Linked DNA regions of Homo sapiens. The protein of the gene in region 4 purifies or fractionates together with the protein of the main gene of each other region. This does not show direct contact. Each region holds a gene or a part of one and is shown on either strand. Other genes may lie near its edges.

Region 1 (3,500 bases), on a different chromosome or scaffold from region 4:
TTCATCCTTCAAAACACCACCTCCTCCAGGAAGCCCTCCTCCTGGCCCCACCTCACCACCACCCAGGCCTCACACCTCCTCGAGGCTGGTGTCGGAGATCCCGTAGCCAGTGAGCCTCAGCTCCGCCAGCCGCGTGTCTAGCTCTCGGAAGAGTGTGGCGAAGCTGCCGTCATGGGCACCCGTGTAGGGCAGCACCAGCACCAGCTCGTGTGGCAGCTCCTCCACCAGCCGTGCCCCGGGCACCCAGTGCTGTACCAGGGCCAGCAGCTGAGGAGTGCCTGTGTGGACAAAGGGGTGCTTCAGGGAGCCCCGGCTCACGCCCCACCCCAGTCTCCCTGGGGAAGAGGCATTGGTGACCTGTGAGGGGACTGTCCCGGCAGACAGAGATCAGGGTTAAGAACGTAGGCCAGGTGCGGCCGGGCGCAGTGGCTCACGCCTGTAATCCCAGCACTTTGAGGGTTGAAGCAGGCAGATCACCTGAGGTCAGGAGTTTGAGACCAGCCTGACCAACATGGTGAAACCCCATTTCTACCAAAAATGCAAAAATTAGCCAGGCATGGTGGAACCCACCTGTAATCCCAGTTACTCGAGAGGCTGAGGGAGGAGAAATGCTTGAACCCAGGAGGCAGAGGTTGCAGTGAGCTGAGATCACACCACTGCACTACAGCCTGGGCGACAGAGCAAGACTCAGAAACAAACAAAAAGAGATCTTGAGGGCAGTGCTGGACCTAGTGTTGGAGGTCAGGGGTAGGTTTGTCTCTGGGCTCAGCCCTGGTTGGGTTAAAGGTGGGGTCAGTGTTCAAGTTAGTCTCATGGTTCCGGCTCAGCCCAGGGATGGGGGCATCATCTCAGGTTCTCAAGTGCTCTCCTCCTCCTCTCCTTCTCCTCCCCCTCCTCTCCCTCCTCCTCCTCTCCCTCCTACTCCTCCCCCTTCTCCTCCCCCTCCTCTTCCTCCTACTTCTCCCCCTTCTCCTCCCCCTTTCCCTCCCCCTCCTCCTCCCCCTCCTATTCCTCCCCTTCTGCTCCCCTCCTACTCCTCCCCTTCTTCTCCCCCTCCTCCTCTCCCTTCCCCTCCTCCTCCCCCCTTCTCCTCCCCCTCCTCCTCTCCCTCCCCCTCCTCCTCTCCCTCCTACTCCTCCCCTTCGCCTCCCCTTCCACCTCTTACTCCTCCCCCTCCTCCTCCCCCTCCTCCTCCGCCTCAACCTCCTCTGCCGCTTCCTCCCCCTCCTCCTCCTCTTCCCCCTCCCCCTCCTCCTCCTCAAGTTAAGGCACAGCCACCCCACTGCCCACCCGCCTTGGGTCTCCCACCCCGGCCCTCACCGACTCTGCTGCCCTGGCTGCCATTCTTCTTTTCCTGCCTGGTGTCCACACTGCCCTCCATGTCAGTGTCAGCCTGCGGGCAGAGAGGCACCAAGTGGCTTGGCCTTCAGGGCTGAACAGAGTCCCGGGGGTCAGGGGTCAGGAGAAGGCCGGTCCCCACCTTCTCATTGGTGGTCAGGGGCAGGCGGGCCTTCACCAGCGTCAGGTAGTAGCCGGAGCCCAGGTGACGGCGCAGGAAGAGTGGGGAGCCACAGCAGCACAAGCGGCCACCTGCCACCACGGCCACACGGTCTCCCAGCAGCTCTGCCTCATCCAGGTGGTGGGTGGAGAGGATCAGCGTGCGACCTAGGCACGGGGGACCAACCCACAACTACCATCAGGCCGCCGCGTCTTTGCCCGAGCTGGGGCCTCTGCCAGGAGTTGTCTGCCCCATGAAGCAAACTCCTATTCATCCCTCAAAACCTCATCCCCAGAACCTCCTTGTTGGAAACCTTTTCTGGCCCTTCAGGCAGAATCCAGGGGAACCTCTGTCTATCCCCAACTCTTACTGTCTCGGTATTTGAGCAGTAGCCCCTAAATGCCATAGCAACAAGTGGGGTCCACATGTAGCAAACTCCTACTCATTCCTCAAAACCCCATCCCCAGCACTTCCTTGTCAGAAGCCTTTTCTGGCCCCTCGAGCAGAATCCCCAGCTCTTACCTTCTCGGTATTTGAGCAGCAGCTCCCAAATACCGCGGCGGGAAGCAGGATCCACGCCAGCCGTAGGCTCGTCCAGGATAACAACTTGGGAGCCGCCCACAAAGGCAATGGCCACGGACAGCTTCCGTTGCATCCCACCTGGTAGAGATGGGGAAGGGACCTCAGTGTGTCACACCCAGCCTTGGGCAAGGTTGCCTACCCACGTGGACCTCAGTACCCGGCTTCCCCCTGCCTTCAGGATGAATCCCCAGGCCCCTCCCTGTGAGGTGACCTCCCTTGGGGATGGGCTCACCAGAGAGGTGGCGAGTCTGCACACTCTGCTTGGAGACCAGCCCCACATCCTGCAGCAGACGGTCCTGCTCGGGGCCCACTACAGCGGCACTCAGACCCTTCAGCCGCCCATAGAACCAGACGTGCTCGTCCACGGTCAGCCTGCGGCCAGTGCACAGAGCAGAGTGACCCACATGGCAGGCAGAGTCCCAGAGGGCGTCCAGTCCCTTCCCACCGCTGCACTCTGGGCCTGCCGAGACGCACATGTCAAACAGCACGTTGTACTGAGGACAGACGCCCAGGTGGGGCCGGATGGCGGCCATGCTGGAGCGGACGTCGTGGCCCAGGATGAAGGCAGAGCCACCACTGGGTGGGAAGAGGCCACTCAAGATGGACCTGTGGATAGAGGGGTCTCAGAGTAGCCCCCTTCACAGAGTGCACTGGCAGTTACAGAGCTTCTATTTTTAATTTCTGTTTTTAAAAAATTTTTAATTATTTATTATTATTATTATTATTATTATTATTATTATTATTTTTGAGACGGAGTTTCACTCTGTTGCCCAGGCTGGAGTGCAGCGGCACGATCTCGGCTCACTGCAAGCTCCACCTCCCGGGTTCACGCCATTCTCCTGCCTCAGCCTCCCGAGTAGCTGGGACTACAGGCGCCCGCCACCATGTCCGGCTAATTTTTTTGCATTTTTAGTAGAGACGGGGTTTCACTGTTTCACCATGTTAGCCAGGATGATCTCAATCTCCTGACCTCGTGATCCACCCGCCTCGGCCCCCCAAAGTGCTGGGATTGCAGGCCTGAGCCACCACGCCTGGCCACAGAGCACCTATTAAATGCTACATCCAAAACCCTGTGATAGCCTTATTTTTATTTATTTGTTTATTTTTATTTTTTTGTGACAGAGTCTCACTCTGTTGCCCAGGCTGGAGTGCAACGGCACAGTCTCGGCTCACTGCAACCTCCGCCTCCAGGGTTCAAGCAGTTCTCCTGCCTCAGCCTCCTGAGTAGCTGGGATTACAGGTGCACGCCACCATCACACCCGGCTAATTTTTGTATTTTTAGTAGAGATGGTTTTGCCATATTGGCCAGGCTGTGTCTCAAACTCTGACCTCAGGCAATCCTCCCACCTCGGCTTGCCCAAGTGCTGGGATTACAGGCGTGAGCCACCACTCCCGCCCTATTTATTTTGAGACAGGGTCT
Region 2 (3,500 bases), on a different chromosome or scaffold from region 4:
TTTCCAGGATACATGTGTACAATGTGCAGGCTTGTTACATAGGTATACATGTGCCATGGTGGTTTGCTGCACCTTTCAACCCATCATCTAGGTTTTAAGCCCCACATGCATTAGCTGTCTGTCCTTATGCTCTCCCTCCCTCCACCCACCCGCAGGCTGTGGCATATGTTGTTCCCCTCCCTGTGTCCATGTGTTCTCATTTTTCAACTCCCACCTATGAGTGAGAATATGCAGTGTGTGGTTTTCTGTTCCTGTGTTAGTTTGCTGAGGATGATGACTTCTAGCTTCATACATGTCCCTGCAAAGGACATGATCTCATTCCTTTTATGGCTGCATAGTACTCCTAAAGTTATTTTCAAGATTATTTATTTATTTATTTATTTATTTTAGAGACAGGGTCTTGCTCAGTCACCCAGATTGGGATGCCATGGCACAATCATAGCTCATTGTAGCCTCCAACTTCTGGGTTCAGGAGATCCTCCCAACTTAGCCACCTGAGTAGCTAGTACTATTTTTAAGGTATTTATTTATGGCCAGACATGGTGGCTCACGCCTGTGATCCCAGTACATTGGGAGACTGAGGCAGGAGGACTGCTTGAGCCCAGGAGTTTGTAACCATCCTAGGCAACATAGTAAGATCCCGTTTCTACAAAAAAAAAAAGTTTTTAATTAGCTGGAAGCTGGGTGTGTGATGGCTCATGCCTGTAATCTCAGCATATTGGGAGACCAAAGCAGATTGATCGCTTGAGTCCAGGAGTTTGAGACTAGCCTGGCATGGTGGCACACACCTGTGGTCCCAGCTATGAGTGAGGCTGAGGTGGGAGGATCACTTGAGCCTGGGAGGTTGAGGCAGCAGTGAGCCGTGATCATACCACTACACTCCAGCCTGGGCAACAGAGTGAGACCCTGTCTCAAAAAAAAAATAAAACTAGCTGAGCATGGTGGCGTGTGCCTGTAGTCCTAGTTACTTGGGAGGCTAACGCAGAGGATTGCTTGAGCCCAGGAGGTTGAGGCTACAGTGAGCTGTGATTGCATCACTATACTCAGCCTGGGTGACAAAGCGAGACCCTAGGTCAAAACAGAACAAAAAAAAGATATTTATATTTTTAACTTATTTAAAATACCTTTCTAAAGCAAGTTACTTTATTCTTACCTTGATCTTTACAGAACTAGGAGGAGCATTTCAAGAAGTAGTGTTCTAACCCAGGGATGCTGGTATTATGTGTGTGGTTTTAATTTTTACATCTAAGCCAGATTCCTGCAAGATTATTCTTAACATAAAACATTTTTTTAGGTTCGAATTATATTTTAGTTAGGTTTTTCCTGGGTACAAGGAACACAGATCCCCACAACCTAGCTTAAAAAAATAATGACAAAGGAAAGAAATCAATATTGTTGGGTACTAGGAGAGTTGGAACTGGGACAGTGTTAAAAACTGAGGAACTGTGCTTTCATGAGTCTCCAGGTCTCCCTGTGTCATCTCTGTGCATCTGTTCTGATTTCTCTATGCCACATATTTTCTTCATGTACATGTGTTTTATTCTCACATACTTATAAATGTCCATCAAGTTCCCAGTGTTAAGTGATTTGGTTTTTCAGTTCTCCCATTCTAGATTCTCAAGAGTCAATTTAGCTCAATTCATTTTTAAAATCTGGACATAGAAATAGCATATAATTGGAATATCCACAGATGAATCACAGTTGAGTTATCTGTGCCTATTACTTATTATATTAATGAACATAATTACATAGTTCATTAACTATGGGGGTAGAGTCATATACTCCATGTATAGAGTTATACAAAAAATGACCACTGCTCCTCAATAGATTTAGTGGGCTGGGTAGGGTCTCCTATGTGTCCACAGCTAGACAGTTGACATTTTTTGAGCATATTCTAAATAAAACTTGGTGTTCTTGACTCCCTATTATGCCAGGCCTAAGAAGAGATTGATAACAGTATTCCACAAAGGAAACTTTTATCATAAAAATTGTCTCTTAAAAAAGTAGTATGTTTGTTGTAGAAATTCAGTGCTTCCAACCTTTCTCACATAACAGCACTCACAGCAAATGATATTTGGAGGCACAATGGAATAAATAGAAGAGGATGCTGCAGACCAAGGACAAATACCCCAGGGCCCTAACCCTACCCCTGCTACTGGCCTTGATTGGCATCCTCAAAGGCCTGAGAGAATCAGTACTCAGCACATATGAAACCCATACCATTTATTTATTTATTTATTTATTTATTTATTTATTCATTCATTCATTCATTCATTCCTCACACTGGGGAACTTTGCCTTATTTTTTGGCATCATGCCCTATGTTTTTCAACCTTTTTAAAATTATTGACCCCTAATTAGCCTTTTTAGACATTTTCTCCTAATCACTTTTTCCCACCCTAAAAATTTCAGTACTACATATATGCTGTATATCTGTTTATGTACTGTGACGCTTTGGAGGGCCACAGACTATTATATTAATAATGTCAAAGTCTTTTTTCCACACTCCCTCCTGTGCCAAGATCCAGTTTTACCCAATTGGGAGATGTATTGTACCTGTCAAGAATGCCTGCTTTAGAGAACGTGGAACCGTTAACATTTCAGTGTGTATCTTCTGTCTGTTCATACATGCATGGGCACACATAAGCTTGCACCATTACGTTTATAAATAGACTTTTTGCAATTAATAATGTATCATATATACATTACTCTGTCATTAGACATTCTTCTACAATAAGAGTTTTGACATGTATTGCCAAATATCCTCCTAAAGTTTATACAGATTACACTATTTAATCATAGTTACATTTTCCTAAAGACTTAGTTTTGGCCAGGTGCAGTGGCTCATGCCTGTAATCTCAGCACTTTGGGAGGCCAAGGCGGGTGGATCGCCTGAGGACGGGAATTCAAGACCAGCCTGGCCAACATGGCGAAACCGTGTCTCTACTAAAAATACAAAAAATTAGCTGGGCGTGGTGGTGGGTGCCTGTAATCTCAGCTACTCGGGAGGCTGAGGCAGGAAAATCGCTTGAACCCGGGAGATGGAGGTTGCAATGAGCCAAGGTCACACCATTGCACTTCAGCCTGGGCAACAAGAGTGAAAATCCATCTCAAAAAAAAAAAAAGAAAAAGAAAGAAAGAAATCCCAAATCCCATCTCTACAAAAAACATACAAAAATTAGCTGGGCGTGGTGGCATGCACCTGTAGTCCTAGCTGCTCAGAAGGCTGAAGTGGGAGGATCACTGGAGCCCAGGAGGTTGAGGCTGCAGTGAGCCACAATCACACCATTGCACACTAGCATGGGTGACAGAGCAAGAATTTATCTCATACACACACAAAAAAGCTTAGCATCTGAACCATTTTTAAAGTGTATGGGTTCAGTGGCATTAGGTACATTCACACCATTTGTAACCAATCTCCCAAACTTTTCTCATTGTACAAAACTGAAATTTATTCATCTGTAGATGGACACTTGGGTTGCTTCAACCTTTTGGGTATTG
Region 3 (3,500 bases), on a different chromosome or scaffold from region 4:
CCTAGGTTGTGCACTCCTTATGACACTCTAATGCCTGATGATCTGAGGTGGGAACAGTTTCATCCCAAAACCATCCCCCCAACCCACCCCTGTCCATGGAAAAATTGTCTTCCACAAAACCAGTCCCTAGTGCCAAAAAGGTTGGGGACTGCTGTTATATAAGTCAAACACACACGTGTTATATAAGTCAAACACACACAGTTATATAAGTCAAACACACACACACACACACACACACACACACACACACAGAGAGAAAGGAGGAGGGATAAAGGGAGGGGGATAGAGAGGGAGAGAAAAGGCTTTATATAGGTTGATTTATATAGAGAAGCTAATTTTAAAAAGAGGATAACTGAAATTTTACAGTAATTACGACTTTTCTTTTTAAAATGATAATTAGCTTGCCCATTCAGAAAACTAAAGTTGAGATTACTGGAAGAACCACTCTCAAGGATCAAAATGCCACATGTACCTGAAAGAACTGTCAACACCTACCTCCAACAACACCCACACCAACACTGCTCCTCCTTGTATTCATGGGAGCTACATGAAACCACTCATTAGACTTTATGTTGTATGCTTCCACAGATGACAAACCTATAATAAAGCACAATAGTCTTCATTTCCTTCTCTAAAAAATGTCAATAGTTCATATATATGGAAAAATACTTCAGGTATGTTATACTGGGCTAAAATTAAGAGAAGAAAATGGTGGAACATAAACACAGCAATTACATGAAAAACAGGTACAGCTTGTTTTCCAGAAGGCTCCTACCTAAGCTACTGATATTTATAAGCTTTTAAAATTTGATGACTGATACTGATGCATAAGAAAGAAAATTTATATACTCACCACTCATATCATTTAAGGAAATTCTTGATAAAATTTTAAACTTATCTTTAAATACCAGTTAAAACCTCACATGTTGTAATCCCAGCACTTTGGGAGGCCGAGGTGGGCGGATCACAAAGTCAGGAGATTGAGACCATCCTGGCTAACATGGTGAAACCCCGTCTCTACTAAAAAATACAAAAAAAATTAGCCGGGCGTGGTGGCGGGCACCTATAGTCCCAGCTGCTCGGGAGGCTGAGGCAGGAGAATGGCATGAACCCGGCAGGCGGAGCTTGCAGTGAGCCGAGATTGCGCCACTGTACTCCAGCCTGGGCGACGGAGCAAGACTCCATCTCAAAAAAAAAAAAAAAAACACAAAAAACCTCACATGTGCCCTAATGTTGCCACAATTTATTCCATAAACATGACTACTACGTTAATTTTAGCAGCAATGTAGAATAAATGAAAAGGAAATTACCTGTACTCCCATCAAAGCCTCCCACAGCGTATAATAATCCATTTAACACAGCAGCTCCCAAAGTGCTTCTCCGGTCTCTCATGTTAGCAACGCTGGTCCACTGGTCCTTCACAGGGTCGTAGGAATCTACAGTGCGAACTCTTAATGAGCCATTAAAGCCACCAACAGCAAAAACAAGTCCAGCCATGTAGACCATGCCTGCAAAAGGAGTACAGCATTTAATGATCAACATGCAACTCAACTACCACCAATATCCAAAGATTGCTTTCTGATAAATCTATAGCTGTTGTCAGAACATGCTACTCTTAGGAGGAGCCTGATTAAATAAATCCTTGAAAATGCTATTCATTTGCAAGAACATCCAATCACTAAATTGTCTTTCTTTCTAAGGTTATTATTATTATTATTTCTTCCTTTCTTTATTTTGAGACGGAGTCTCACTCTGTCGCCCAGGCTGGAGTGCAGTGGCGCCATCTCAGCTCACTGCAAGCTCAGCCTCCCGTGTTCACACCATTCTCCTGCCTCAGCCTCCTGAGTAGCTGGGACTACAGGCGCCCGCCACCACACCCAACTAATTTTTTGTATTTTTAGTAGAGATGGGGTTTCACTGTGGTCTTGATCTCCTGACCTCGTGATCTGCCCGCCTTGGCCTCCCAAACTGCTGGGATTACAAGCGTGAGCCACTGCACCTGGCCTTCTTTCTAAGGTTATTAAAAAATGCAATGGCATGGGCTAAAGTACCATGTTGACTCTTGGTTTTTTTAAATATCAATTTACAAGCTTAAATAATGAGCCATTATTTTCCAACTACTTGAACCTGTACTCACCTCCCATAGCTTTCAATTTTGGATCTTCTAGTGGATATTCTTAGAATGAAACTCCATACGCTTATAATTTATTTGCATAACGTATTCCTAGTTTATCATGTTAGTGGGCTAAATCAGGGGTCGGCAAATTTACAGCTACAGGCTAAATTTGGTCCAGCGAACTATTTCTGTAGAACCCATAAGCTAAGCATGGTTTTTATATTTTTAAATGGCTGAAAAACAACCAAAAGAGGAATAATATTTCATGACATGTAAAAAGCTATATGAAATTCAAATTTCACCATCCATAAATATAGTTTTATTGGAACACTGCCACACTCATTCATTTACATATGGCTGGTTTTGCACTATAGCAGTAGATAAGAAGCTGTGACAGAGACCATATAACCACAAAGCCTAAAATACTTATTCTCTGGTCCTTCAAGAGAAAGTCTGCTGATCCTTGGGCTAAAGAGATATTACGGAATCAGTGAATGGAGAAACTAGACTGCTAGACTCAGGTTTCAACCATCTTTTCACTTTTCTCAACTTTTTTCATGCTGCTGTCCTAATCGGACAGGCTCCTATCACCATCTACTCTGTTCTCTTTAACTCTGAATCCTCAGTTAAAGTTCCACATTCTCTATGATGCCTTCCCTGTCCACTTTAGCCTAAAAGGGATTATGTCCAGCTCCCGAACCCTATAGCAAATAACATCTATGTTGTGTACTTCAGGTTTAATAAATGTACCGTCTATAATATAATTACTTTAAATTGTTCAAATTTTTATTGTTCTTAGTTCTATAATGTTTATGTCCCTGTGCCAGCCTGAGGGCAGGCAATGTGGCTCACAGTTCTCTGAATCCCTGTAGGGAGAACTGGAATCACCAGATATGTTTGACGAGCTCAATGTTTTGCAGATGTTATCAGGCAAGAGATGTACCTCTGCCCCTTACTGTCTTAACCTCTGGTGCTTTATTCCCCCACCCCTGTAAAAATACACGGAAATGCAGTCCTCCATATGGCAACAAGACCTTTCCAGTTCAGATGAAGTTGCCTGTTTTGGCCCCCTGCTAGCACAGAATTTAACAGACATCCTAAGAGGGCCTGGAGACTCGTGAGCAGCAACATACCAGGCAGCATGTTTCAGCATGAAACAATCCTGTATCCCAAAATCATAACTAACTCCAGGGAATGTTCATTGTGGGAATCTTGCCCATTGCAATTTTCATTTTCCTTTCTCTACCCACAAAATAACACTACAAATATGCCATCTCTTAGAAGTAACATAGTATGCTTACCAAGGTTTAGAGAATTTTAGGTCACAGAGAGGAAGAAAATAAATGAATCAATCTATGAAGTGCCCCCTACCAAAGGCTCTGGG
Region 4 (3,063 bases):
ATTGGCGTTGTTGTCACTTTTTGGCTGTTGTGAACATTTGTGTACAGGTTTTTTTTTTTTTTTTGAGACAGGGTCTCGCTCTGTCGCCCAGACTGGAGTGCAATATGTGATATTGGCTCACCGCAGCCTTGACCCCCCAGGCTCTAGCGATCCTCCTACCTCAGCCTCCTGAGTAGCTGAAACTAAGGCATGTGCCACCAAGCCCAGATAATTATTATTATTATTATTTTGAGACAGGGTGTCTCATTCTGTCTCCCAAGCTGGAGTACGGTGGCTCAGTCTCCACTCACCGCAGCCTCAACCTCCTGAGCTCCAACAGTCCTCTCACCTCAGCCTCCTAAGTAGCTGGAACTAAGGCCTGTGCCACCACATCTGTCTAATTTTTGTTTTGTTACTAGAGACAGAGTTTTGCTGTGTTGCCCAGGCTGGTCTGGAACTCCTGGGCTCAAACGATCCACCTGCCTGGGCCTCCCAAAGTGTTAGGATGATAGGCGTGAGCCACCATGCCCAGCCTAATTTTTAAATTTCTTGTAGAGAGGAGGTCTCACTTTGTTGCCCAGACTGGTCTCAAACTCCTGGCCTCAAGAGCTCCCTCCGCCTCAGCCTTCCAAAGCGCTGGGATTACAGGCATGCACCACCATGCCCGGCCATTTGCTGTCACTTCTGTCTCCTTGAGTCTGCCTCCTCCTGCTTCACCTCCATGAAGCCAGGGGGCTTTTGCTTGCCTGGGTCACTATGACTGAATTCTTCCCACCTAGTCTGTGGTAGACATCTTCGTAAACTCAGACACCTCATGTCCTCTTTGTCTTCATCCTTCAGGACTATGGCCCCAAAGTCAACTTTCGGAAACAGAAGCTAAAGACCGAGGGCTTCTGCGGCCTCCCCAGCTTCAGCCGGGAGGTGGTGCGGAGGATGGGCCTCTACCCGGGGCTGGAGGGCTTCCGGCCCGTCGAGCAGTGCAACCTGGACTACTGCCCCGAGCGGGGCTCTGCCATTGACCCCCACCTGGACGACGCCTGGCTGTGGGGGGAGCGGCTGGTCAGCCTCAACCTCCTGTCCCCCACCGTGCTGTCCATGTGTCGGGAGGCGCCCGGGAGCCTGCTCCTCTGCTCGGCCCCGTCGGCTGCCCCGGAGGCCTTGGTGGACAGCGTGATAGCACCCAGCCGGTCGGTGCTATGCCAGGAGGTGGAGGTGGCCATCCCCTTACCCGCCCGCTCCCTGCTGGTCCTCACCGGGGCGGCACGGCACCAGTGGAAGCATGCCATCCACCGCAGACACATCGAGGCCCGCCGCGTCTGCGTCACTTTCCGGGAGCTGTCGGCTGAGTTTGGCCCTGGAGGGAGGCAGCAAGAGCTGGGCCAGGAACTGCTGCGGATCGCCCTCTCCTTCCAGGGAAGACCCGTGTGAACCGCCTCCTTGGCTCCAGACTTGACTGATCCCGGGATTGAAATGAGGAGCACAGAACAGGGCCTCCTGCAACTCACGGGGTTTCAAGAGAAGATGGCTGACCCCTGATGCTGTGAGCAGTGTGAGCCCTGCCCAGGAGCAGGTTTTGATGGGAACGTACCTCCAGGCAGCCCCCTTCCACCTGGACCGTGGCCACACTTTTTTGGTTATTTAGTTTGTCACAGTCTTGGGGACATGGGATCATTTGAGCTTAAAAAATACTGGGGGCCGGGCACAGTGGCTCACACCTGTAATCCTAACACTTTGGGAGGCTGAGGTGGGCGGATCACTTGATGCCAGGAGTTCGAGACCAGCCTGGCCAACACGGTGAAAACCCGTCTCTACAAAAACTACAAAAATTAGCCGGGTGTGGTGACTCACAGCCGTAATCCCAGCTACTCGGGAGGCTAAGGTGGGAGAATTGCTTGAACCTGGGAGGCGGAGGTTGCAGTGAGCCAAGATCACGCCACTGCACTCCAGCCTCGGTGACAGAGCAAGACTGTTTTGAAAAAAAAAAAAAATGGGAACATTTTAAATGATTTTCACCTTTATTATGCATCTATTTTCATGGGGTTTCCCGATATCTCACTGTCCAGTCCCTTCATTTGGGGAATGTGTTGGATTAGGGAACAGGGTTGAAGATTTGAAGTTTAGACTAAAGAGCTGGGAACAGCTTCAGAGTCAGGCTCAGCCTGACTCATGCTTGACACCCCCACGCCCAGGGAGGGTTGGGGGATGTGAGGAGGGCAGGGAAATCTGAGAGCCTCCTTCCAGCCCCATAACGCTGTTAACAAGTAGGAAAAATTAAAGCTCCCGGCCAGGCGCGGTGACTCACACCTGTAATCCGAGTACTTTGCGGGGCTCAGGTGGGAGGATTGCTTGAGGCCAGCCTGGGCAACATAGTGAGACCCCCATCTCTACAAAAAATACAAACATTAGCTGGGCGTCTGGGCATGGTGGCACACACCTGTAGTCCCAGCTACTCGAAAGGCTGAGGCGGGAGGATGGCTTTACCACCATGTCAAGGCTGCAGTGAGCTCATGATCATACCACTGCACTTAACTTGGCAACAGAGCAAGACCCTGTCCCTAAAATAAATAAAAGGAAAACAAAAAAAGCTCCTCACCTCCCACTACACCAGGAGGCTATTCCTTTGTGATGGGGCTGTGGTGGGGGCGCTTACCTGGATGGGGGAGCTGCTCTGCTGTTCCTGTGGCTGGGTGCGGGGCAGGCTGTGGAGGCTGAGGGGGTGGCCTGGACCCATGTGGCCAGCCCTCTCTCCCACCACTATGGGACAAAATGTTCAGTTCCTCACCACCTGCTGGGAACTAAATCCAGGGGAACAGGAAAGGTTCGGGGCCAGCACCACTCTTTACAGTCACCCCCAGAACCCTCTGGGAGCTGTCAGATGGCAGAGCCGTGCACTGTCTGTAAAGCAGCATCCCAGCCACTGAGCTCCCAGGAGGGCTGAAGAGCCCCGCATAGACCCAGGGGAAAGGCTGATGGGTTTCTAGTGGCTGTGAGAGCCCAGCCGCTAGGTGGGAGGACGTGGCTCCCAGGCCACCTTAACTTCGGCTCCCTGGTCAACTCACTTGGAGCAAGAGCACAGAGCCCGGC
Region 5 (3,500 bases), on a different chromosome or scaffold from region 4:
TTGCAGTGAGCCGAGATTGCGCCACTGCAGTCCGCAGTCCGACCTGGGCGACAGAGCGAGACTCCGTCTCAAAAAAAATAAAAAATAAAAAAAAATAAAGTATATTAGTAAATTAGCTGGGTGTGGTGGCTCATGTCTGTAATCCTAGCACTTTGGGAGGCCCCAAAGAGCACTAAGGAAGGCAGATCACCTGAGGTCAGGAGTTTGAGACCAGCCTGGCTAATATGGTGAAACCCTGTCTCTACTAAAAATACAAAAATTAGCTAGGCGTGGCAGCGGGCACCTGTAATCCCAGCTACTTGGGAGGCTGAGGCATGAGAACTGCTTGAACCCGGGAGGCGGAGGTGGCAGGGAGTTGAGAAGGCGCCACTGCACTCCAGCCTGGGGGACAGAGCGAGACTCTGTCTCCAAAAATAAAAATAAAAATAAAGTATACTAGTAAATTATTTAACACAATATATAGCTTTAGGCAAATGTAGCTATAACTATTAAAACAAGTTGACATATAGAAGAGGCCAAAATAAATTCCATCCTAAAAAATACACCAGGGAAAATGCATGTCACTGGATTTTAAAATAAGAGTTCATTATTTCAATTCTGAGTCTCACATGATTGCTTTGAAGACGCAATGCAATCGTGAAAATAGTTTCTCACTAGAAGTATTATATAAATGCAAAATAATGTTATTTAGAAGACACTTTTGCTTAGTAAAACTATATGCAACTCAGAGCATCTAAGGATGGATGGGTATCAGAAAATAAGACCTAATAAAAATCTCAACTTAGCCAGGTATGGTGGCTCACTCCTGTAATCCCAGCACTTTGGGAGGCCGAGGCAGGCAGATCACCTGAGGTCAGGAGTTCGAGAACAGCCTGGCCAACATGGTGAAACTCTGTTTCTACTAAAAATACAAAAATTAGCCAGGTGTGGTGGTGGGCACCTGTAATCCCAGCTACTCAGGAGGCTGAGGCAGAATTGCTTGAACCCAGGAGGCGGAGGCTGCAGTGAGCCGAGATCGTACCACTGCACTCCAGCCTGGGCAACAGAACAAAGCTCCATCTCAAAAAAAAAAAAGAAAAAAACAAAAACAACAAACTCAACCTGGAGTAGTTTATCTATTTAATGGGTGAGTAAGAGACAGTCAATCTTGGTGAGAAAAACCATATTTAATACTATCTTACCATGTCAATTTAAAACTGGCTAAATGTGCCTTTGATTCTCATTCTTGGCTCAAAAAGCAAATGGAAAATCTGATAGGAAGTCTTTGAATATTCAATTATAAAGAATTTGAATACTTTGATTTTTATCCAGTTGGTATTAAAATGAAGATTATACTTTTCAAGTTAAAAGTAGTATTTTCTTAAAAAGGGAGTTTTTCATAAAAGCCAGGTAATACACCATCTACCTGCTGATAATTATGAAGTCTTGTAGTACTTTTGTGGCAAAGCTTTCCATATCCTTCAAGATAACGACAACAGGAGGAGACTGCCATTGGCTAGAAGTAGTCCTTTTTTTGCTTAGCATTTTTGGGTCCGTCTTCTTTTAAGCCATTGCAGAAAGAAAGAGTTAAAGGTAAGCCTTACCACTCAAACAATGTTATAATGCCACATGTTGACATATCTCTCTTTAAATTTCACAATAACACTGTTTATTTTTTTTCTACCACACGATAAATAGAAACTCAGGTTACTAGAATCTTGCTGTGTCTGACATGGGAATAATAACCAAGAAGAAAAAGGTTCAGTAAAAATCTATAACTCATATGAAATATTTATATTTTCTGCTAAGGAAATGACAGAAAAAAACATGGAAGAGGAAATTTTCTACAAAATTGATTTTTCTGTTGGTAGAAAGTTATATTCTGCTTTGCTTTATAGTGAGAACTAGTATTTTTAATGAAAAAAATATAATGAATAGTAGTGCTTGCTACTCTGCCACTGTGAAATTTCAAGCCTGAAATGGATACTAGGTATCATCTGGTCCAATCTCAATTTTTAAAAAGATATCTGACATAAACCAAAAGTAGCATTTTATCTGGAAAGTCTAAAATTGTGGAGCAAATCAGGTATTATGGTAAGTATTAGACGTAGTTTAGTCCCTATATAAAGCAAAATGAAACTTCACTTACGATGATTTCAGCAAAAATGTTGATTGGAAAATGTAACCACAGTATTTTTTTTCCCATACTGTCTGGCTACACAGCACCATAACCTAAGACTATGGTTTTATGACGCAATTACCTAGTGTTAACCTAGGTTATTATTTTTCACCAGACTGTCATGGTAGAATGGAACTTCTTTTTACTTATCTGTTTGTCTAACATACTTTACTTAAAGAACACTGATTCCCTAAGAACTCTAAACATAAAACAAATTAGACTTTAGAAAATACATGATTATTCTTCATTGAACTAAGTTGACAGTGGATACTAGCAGCATGGTTCTATTGGACAAAGCAAACATTGAGGAACATAAGAGATAATATACTAAAGTTATAGTTACTGTCACAGAGATGGAACATGCAACAGAAGCAATTCCTGATGCTCTGTTTTTGTCATTAGAGGACATTCTCCAACAAATAATATGTCCTTGTAAAAACCTAAGCACTTACCTGGAATTAGGCTGCATACTAATAAAAGAACATTTTAAAATTCGAGTAGCATTAGAAAAAATAAATACCTACTTTTAAATTAACACCTAGTGCTGCAGAAACATATCCTTGTTAGATCAAAACAGTACTGTCTAATATTATTCCAAGCCACATCAATCATACGTCAATTTCCTGGGAGAAAATCATCAGTTTATATCTACCTGTGTGACAGTCATATACCAACTGGAAAGTGAATCCATTGAATAATGTGTCTTTCTTTGGGTGACGTGAACACTTTCCTCCTCTTTGGATTTTATATCTACACAGCAGTCCATCAACTGTGAGATCAACTTTTGCAAAAAATGTTTCATATCTGTGGAATATAAAAAGTAAGAAAGCTTATCTCTGCCTCTTCTAAAAATAAAACCAAAGCTCTTGAAACTTCTTGCTGAGTGTATTACTTTTTTTTTTGGTAGAATGTGTTTTTTTATACTTACCATCAATACAGCTAATGTAACATTTAACATATTAACTACTGATGCTCATTAGTACCTTCATTAATTCAGACTAAGACTAAACCAAAGCTTATGTATATTATCTTTATTTTTTTTTTTTGAGATGGAGTCTCGCTCTGTTGCCCAGGCTGGAGTACAGTGGCAGGATCTCGGCTCAATACAACCTCTGCCTCCCGGGTTCAAGCAATTCTCCTGCCTCAAGCCTCCCCAGTAGCTGGGATTACAGGCGCGTGCCACCATACCCAGCTAATTTTTGTATTTTTTAGTAGAGACGGGGTTTTGCCATGTTGGCCAGGCTGGTCTCGAACTCCTCACCTCATGATCTGCCTGCCTCAGCCTCCCAAAGTGCTGGGATTACAAGCATCAAACACTGCTCCCAGCCATTTATGTATATTA
Region 6 (3,500 bases), on a different chromosome or scaffold from region 4:
GGTGTGGTGATACACACCTGTGGTTTCAGCTACTTGGGAGGCTGAGGTGAGAGGATTACTTGAACCTCGGAGGTTGAGGCTGTAGTGAGCTGTGATCATGCCACTGCACTCCAGCCTGAGCAACAGAATGAGACCCATCTCCAAAAAAAGAAAAAGAGAGAGAGAGAAACGTGGATGTTAAGCTGCTGGAGAGCTTTGTTAGGTTGAAAGTTCCCTATATAAACCATGGATTTTTTGCATATAAGCCATTTAATAAATATCTTACTGATTGGTTCACCTGTCATATAAAGATACTAATTTGCCCTACCTTTCTCTTATTTGTGAAAAGAAAATGTACATAAAAGCTCTGTGAACTTTAAAGTTCATTTTGTGTCAAGTACTTTTCTAGGTATTGTACGGACTAAAAGAAAGGCCTGACCAGCACTCTCATAGTCTAGTAATTCTTTCCTAATATTTTAGTTTCACAGCTCTAATACTTTATAATAATCAAATATTTCATTACCCATAAGTGTGAATATTTAAGCTAAATTGTACCATTCTCAGTGTGAGCAGTATTACCCCCAAGGGGGCAAAGATTGTTTCTTAGAAGATGAAAAAAAATGTACCCTTTCTTGTGTAAAGAACAGATATACATACATTAAGGTAAATAGATACACAATTTCTCTGTGGTATTACAATTTTATTGAGGGAAGACTATTAGGAAGAAAATACCTAAAAAGGCTCCGTGGATTGTGATGGTGGTAGGGGATGATGATTTTTTAAAAGGTTCAGAAACTCTGAGCTAAATATATTGCAATTATATTTATTTAGCAAGGGCATTTTAAAGAGAAGAGATCCCTTAATTCTTTAGCCAACTACTTCAAAATTCAGACTTTTGATAATTAAGATTTTTCCATGTATTTTACATATAGGTATATGTTGTCGGTGGCTATGATGGGCAAAACAGACTTAGCAGCGTAGAATGTTATGATTCCTTTTCAAATCGATGGACTGAAGTTGCTCCCCTTAAGGAAGCCGTGAGTTCTCCTGCAGTGACTAGCTGTGTAGGCAAACTGTTTGTGATTGGTGGAGGACCTGATGATAATACTTGTTCTGATAAGGTAAGCCATGCACTTTTAAAGAAATTACCAATATTAAGTACAAGAAGGGAAATACAGAAGGCTTATCAAGTAGGTAGCCAGGTCACATAGTGTGAGGGGTCTTTTAAAAATTTTCTGGTACTATATGCTTTTGGAGAAAAACATTGAATTCTGGGTTGCTAAAGTGAGACTCTAGTATATCTAACAATTTGCTCTAACAAATGTGATCCAATCTTTTTGAAATGAGACTATCTGTGTAGAAGTTTTCTACTAAATAAATTGTTCTGAGCCTTTGCTGTCATCTACAAAATCTAAAAACTATTTATACAAAACACAGTTGAGAAGTGAATTAGCAAAGGGTAAGACATAGTAACTAAATATGCTGCTTCCAACTGGGTCATTTTCTACATACTTTTGAAGTATTTTTCAGAAAAAAGGAAAGGAAACCTCCTTAGTGTAAATAGAGGATGGCTCAAAGTTGTTCCGGTTCAGTAAACTTCTGGGACGAAAGAATATGTGCTATCCTGACATCTCAGGAAATGTTTATTCTGGAAAAAAGCATCTAATGCCTAGCTGGTTTAGCACTGTTAACTGAATTTTGTCAGTCTATTAATTCTTTTTCTAAATTCAGTTTAAAATAATGTGATCAAATGTTACTTATTTAGAATTTGTTATTTCAGAATTTGTGATAATTCAGAGCATACTGATTGAATTGAGGTTTACTTGTTTTCTTTTGAAGAAAGGACTCCCTAAAAGCATTAAGAAGTTATATTCAGATGTGAGGCATAGTTATCCTACATAACACAATTGTGAAAAGATTTAGACTGTTAATTTTAGTGGACAAACCTGGTGGCCATTCATTCTAGAAACAATCTGTGTGTTTGGTACTCTATTCTGCTTGATAGTAATAAATTTGCATTTTATTTGAGAATGTTCGTAATTCAGACATTTCACTATCAGGCTAACCTCTCTTAATTCTCTGAATTAATAGGATTTTATTTTAAATAATGTTTGTAGGTATTGGTAGATTCTTTATTAAGTACATTTCCATTTTTGTTTAGAAATTTTAATTATATATTTTTATATGTTATTAGGTTCAATCTTATGATCCAGAAACCAATTCTTGGCTACTTCGTGCAGCTATCCCAATTGCCAAAAGGTGTATAACAGCTGTATCCCTAAACAACCTGATCTATGTTGCCGGTGGACTGACCAAGGCAATATACTGTTACGATCCAGTTGAAGATTACTGGATGCACGTACAGAATACATTCAGCCGTCAGGTAATAACATAAAGCAGTACAAAAGAAAAATAAATCTAAGAGGGACCAAGTACATAATCATTATTAATACACTGGAATTTCAATTTTAAAATATTTCAGGCTGGGCGTGGTGGCTCACGCCTGTAATCCCAGCACTTTGGGAGGCCGAGGTGGATAGATCACTTGAGGTCAGGAGTTCAAGACCAGCCTGGCTAATATGGTGAAACCCCGTCTCTACTAAAAAATTATGGCCAGGCGTGGTGGTTCATGCCTGTAATCCCAGCACTTTGGGAGGCTGAGGCAGGCCAATCACCTGAGGTCGGGAGTTCGAGACCAGCCTGACCAACATGGAGAAACCCCGTCTCTGCTAAAAATACAAAATTAGCTGGGCGTGGTGGCGCATTGCCTGTAATCCCAGCTACTAGGGAGGCTGCGGCAGGAGAATTGCTTGAACCCGGGAGGTGGAGGTCGCGGTGAGCCGAGATCGAGCCATTGCACTCCAGCCTGGACAGCAAGAGCGAAACTCCGTCTCAAAAATAAATAAATAAATAAAAATAAAATAAAATAAAATAAAACAAAATAAAATAAAAAATTAGCTGGGTTTGGTGGCACACGCCTGTAATCCCAGCTGCTCAGGAGGTTGAGGCGGGAGAATCACTTGAATCTGGGAGGCAGAGGTTGCAGTGAGCCGAGATCATGCCACTTGCACTCCAGCCTGGGCAACAGAGTGAGACTCCGTCTCAAAAAAGTAAATAAATAAGTAAAATAAAATATTTCATGTTTGCTTGAATTATTTTATATATTTTTCAAAACTCCACATAAAGCATATGGCAACCTGTTTTGAACTCCTTCCAAGGGGTCATTTTATTGAAATAACTTCCTTTTTACCATCCCATGGAGAAGTATCTGTTACACTTGGGCTGTTCTTTTTTTTTTCTCTTGACTTTTTTCACAATCCTACTCCAGTATTTATCCCCTCTCTTTCATATTTCAGAAGAGAGGAATGTTCCCAAACTTGTTGTTTCTTTGGTTAGAGGCTGGGAAATCTGTTATTTCTGTTGTAAAGGAAATGGCTGTGCTCACCTTTCTTTCATCCATGTATTCTAACCGGAGCCCTACTCCCTACCCACACTGCCACCTCCCAAAAGGCCTTTTCCCC

Evidence for each region.
Region 1: the proteins of ALKBH4 (region 4) and ABCA7 purify together in Homo sapiens (affinity purification with mass spectrometry; one large-scale study listed by BioGRID and IntAct). This does not show direct contact.
Region 2: the proteins of ALKBH4 (region 4) and ORC2 purify together in Homo sapiens (affinity purification with mass spectrometry; one large-scale study listed by BioGRID and IntAct). This does not show direct contact.
Region 3: the proteins of ALKBH4 (region 4) and KLHL2 purify together in Homo sapiens (affinity purification with mass spectrometry; one large-scale study listed by BioGRID and IntAct). This does not show direct contact.
Region 5: the proteins of ALKBH4 (region 4) and ORC3 purify together in Homo sapiens (affinity purification with mass spectrometry; one large-scale study listed by BioGRID and IntAct). This does not show direct contact.
Region 6: the proteins of ALKBH4 (region 4) and KLHL24 purify together in Homo sapiens (affinity purification with mass spectrometry; one large-scale study listed by BioGRID and IntAct). This does not show direct contact.

Annotation. Positions count from the first base shown.
Region 1 is NC_000019.10:1,050,107-1,053,606, reverse strand, and holds part of ABCA7 (phospholipid-transporting ATPase ABCA7), read right to left. Parts: intron 2,687-3,500; coding exon 2,555-2,686; intron 2,453-2,554; coding exon 2,313-2,452; intron 2,159-2,312; coding exon 2,021-2,158; intron 1,666-2,020; coding exon 1,481-1,665; intron 1,394-1,480; coding exon 1,321-1,393; intron 279-1,320; coding exon 76-278; intron 1-75. UniProt on the Homo sapiens protein: Catalyzes the translocation of specific phospholipids from the cytoplasmic to the extracellular/lumenal leaflet of membrane coupled to the hydrolysis of ATP. Transports preferentially phosphatidylserine over phosphatidylcholine.
Region 2 is NC_000002.12:200,953,661-200,957,160, reverse strand, and holds part of ORC2 (origin recognition complex subunit 2), read left to right. Parts: intron 1-3,500. UniProt on the Homo sapiens protein: Component of the origin recognition complex (ORC) that binds origins of replication. DNA-binding is ATP-dependent. The specific DNA sequences that define origins of replication have not been identified yet.
Region 3 is NC_000004.12:165,308,561-165,312,060, reverse strand, and holds part of KLHL2 (kelch-like protein 2), read right to left. Parts: intron 1,509-3,500; coding exon 1,311-1,508; intron 598-1,310; coding exon 496-597; intron 1-495. UniProt on the Homo sapiens protein: Substrate-specific adapter of a BCR (BTB-CUL3-RBX1) E3 ubiquitin ligase complex that mediates the ubiquitination of target proteins, such as NPTXR, WNK1, WNK3 and WNK4, leading most often to their proteasomal degradation.
Region 4 is NC_000007.14:102,455,738-102,458,800, reverse strand, and holds the end of ALKBH4 (alpha-ketoglutarate-dependent dioxygenase alkB homolog 4), read left to right. Parts: intron 1-819; coding exon 820-1,407; 3' UTR 1,408-2,563; downstream 2,564-3,063. UniProt on the Homo sapiens protein: Dioxygenase that mediates demethylation of actin monomethylated at 'Lys-84' (K84me1), thereby acting as a regulator of actomyosin-processes.
Region 5 is NC_000006.12:87,607,135-87,610,634, reverse strand, and holds part of ORC3 (origin recognition complex subunit 3), read right to left. Parts: intron 2,963-3,500; coding exon 2,811-2,962; intron 1,540-2,810; coding exon 1,406-1,539; intron 1-1,405. UniProt on the Homo sapiens protein: Component of the origin recognition complex (ORC) that binds origins of replication. DNA-binding is ATP-dependent. The specific DNA sequences that define origins of replication have not been identified yet.
Region 6 is NC_000003.12:183,670,123-183,673,622, forward strand, and holds part of KLHL24 (kelch-like protein 24), read left to right. Parts: intron 1-911; coding exon 912-1,100; intron 1,101-2,173; coding exon 2,174-2,362; intron 2,363-3,500. UniProt on the Homo sapiens protein: Necessary to maintain the balance between intermediate filament stability and degradation, a process that is essential for skin integrity.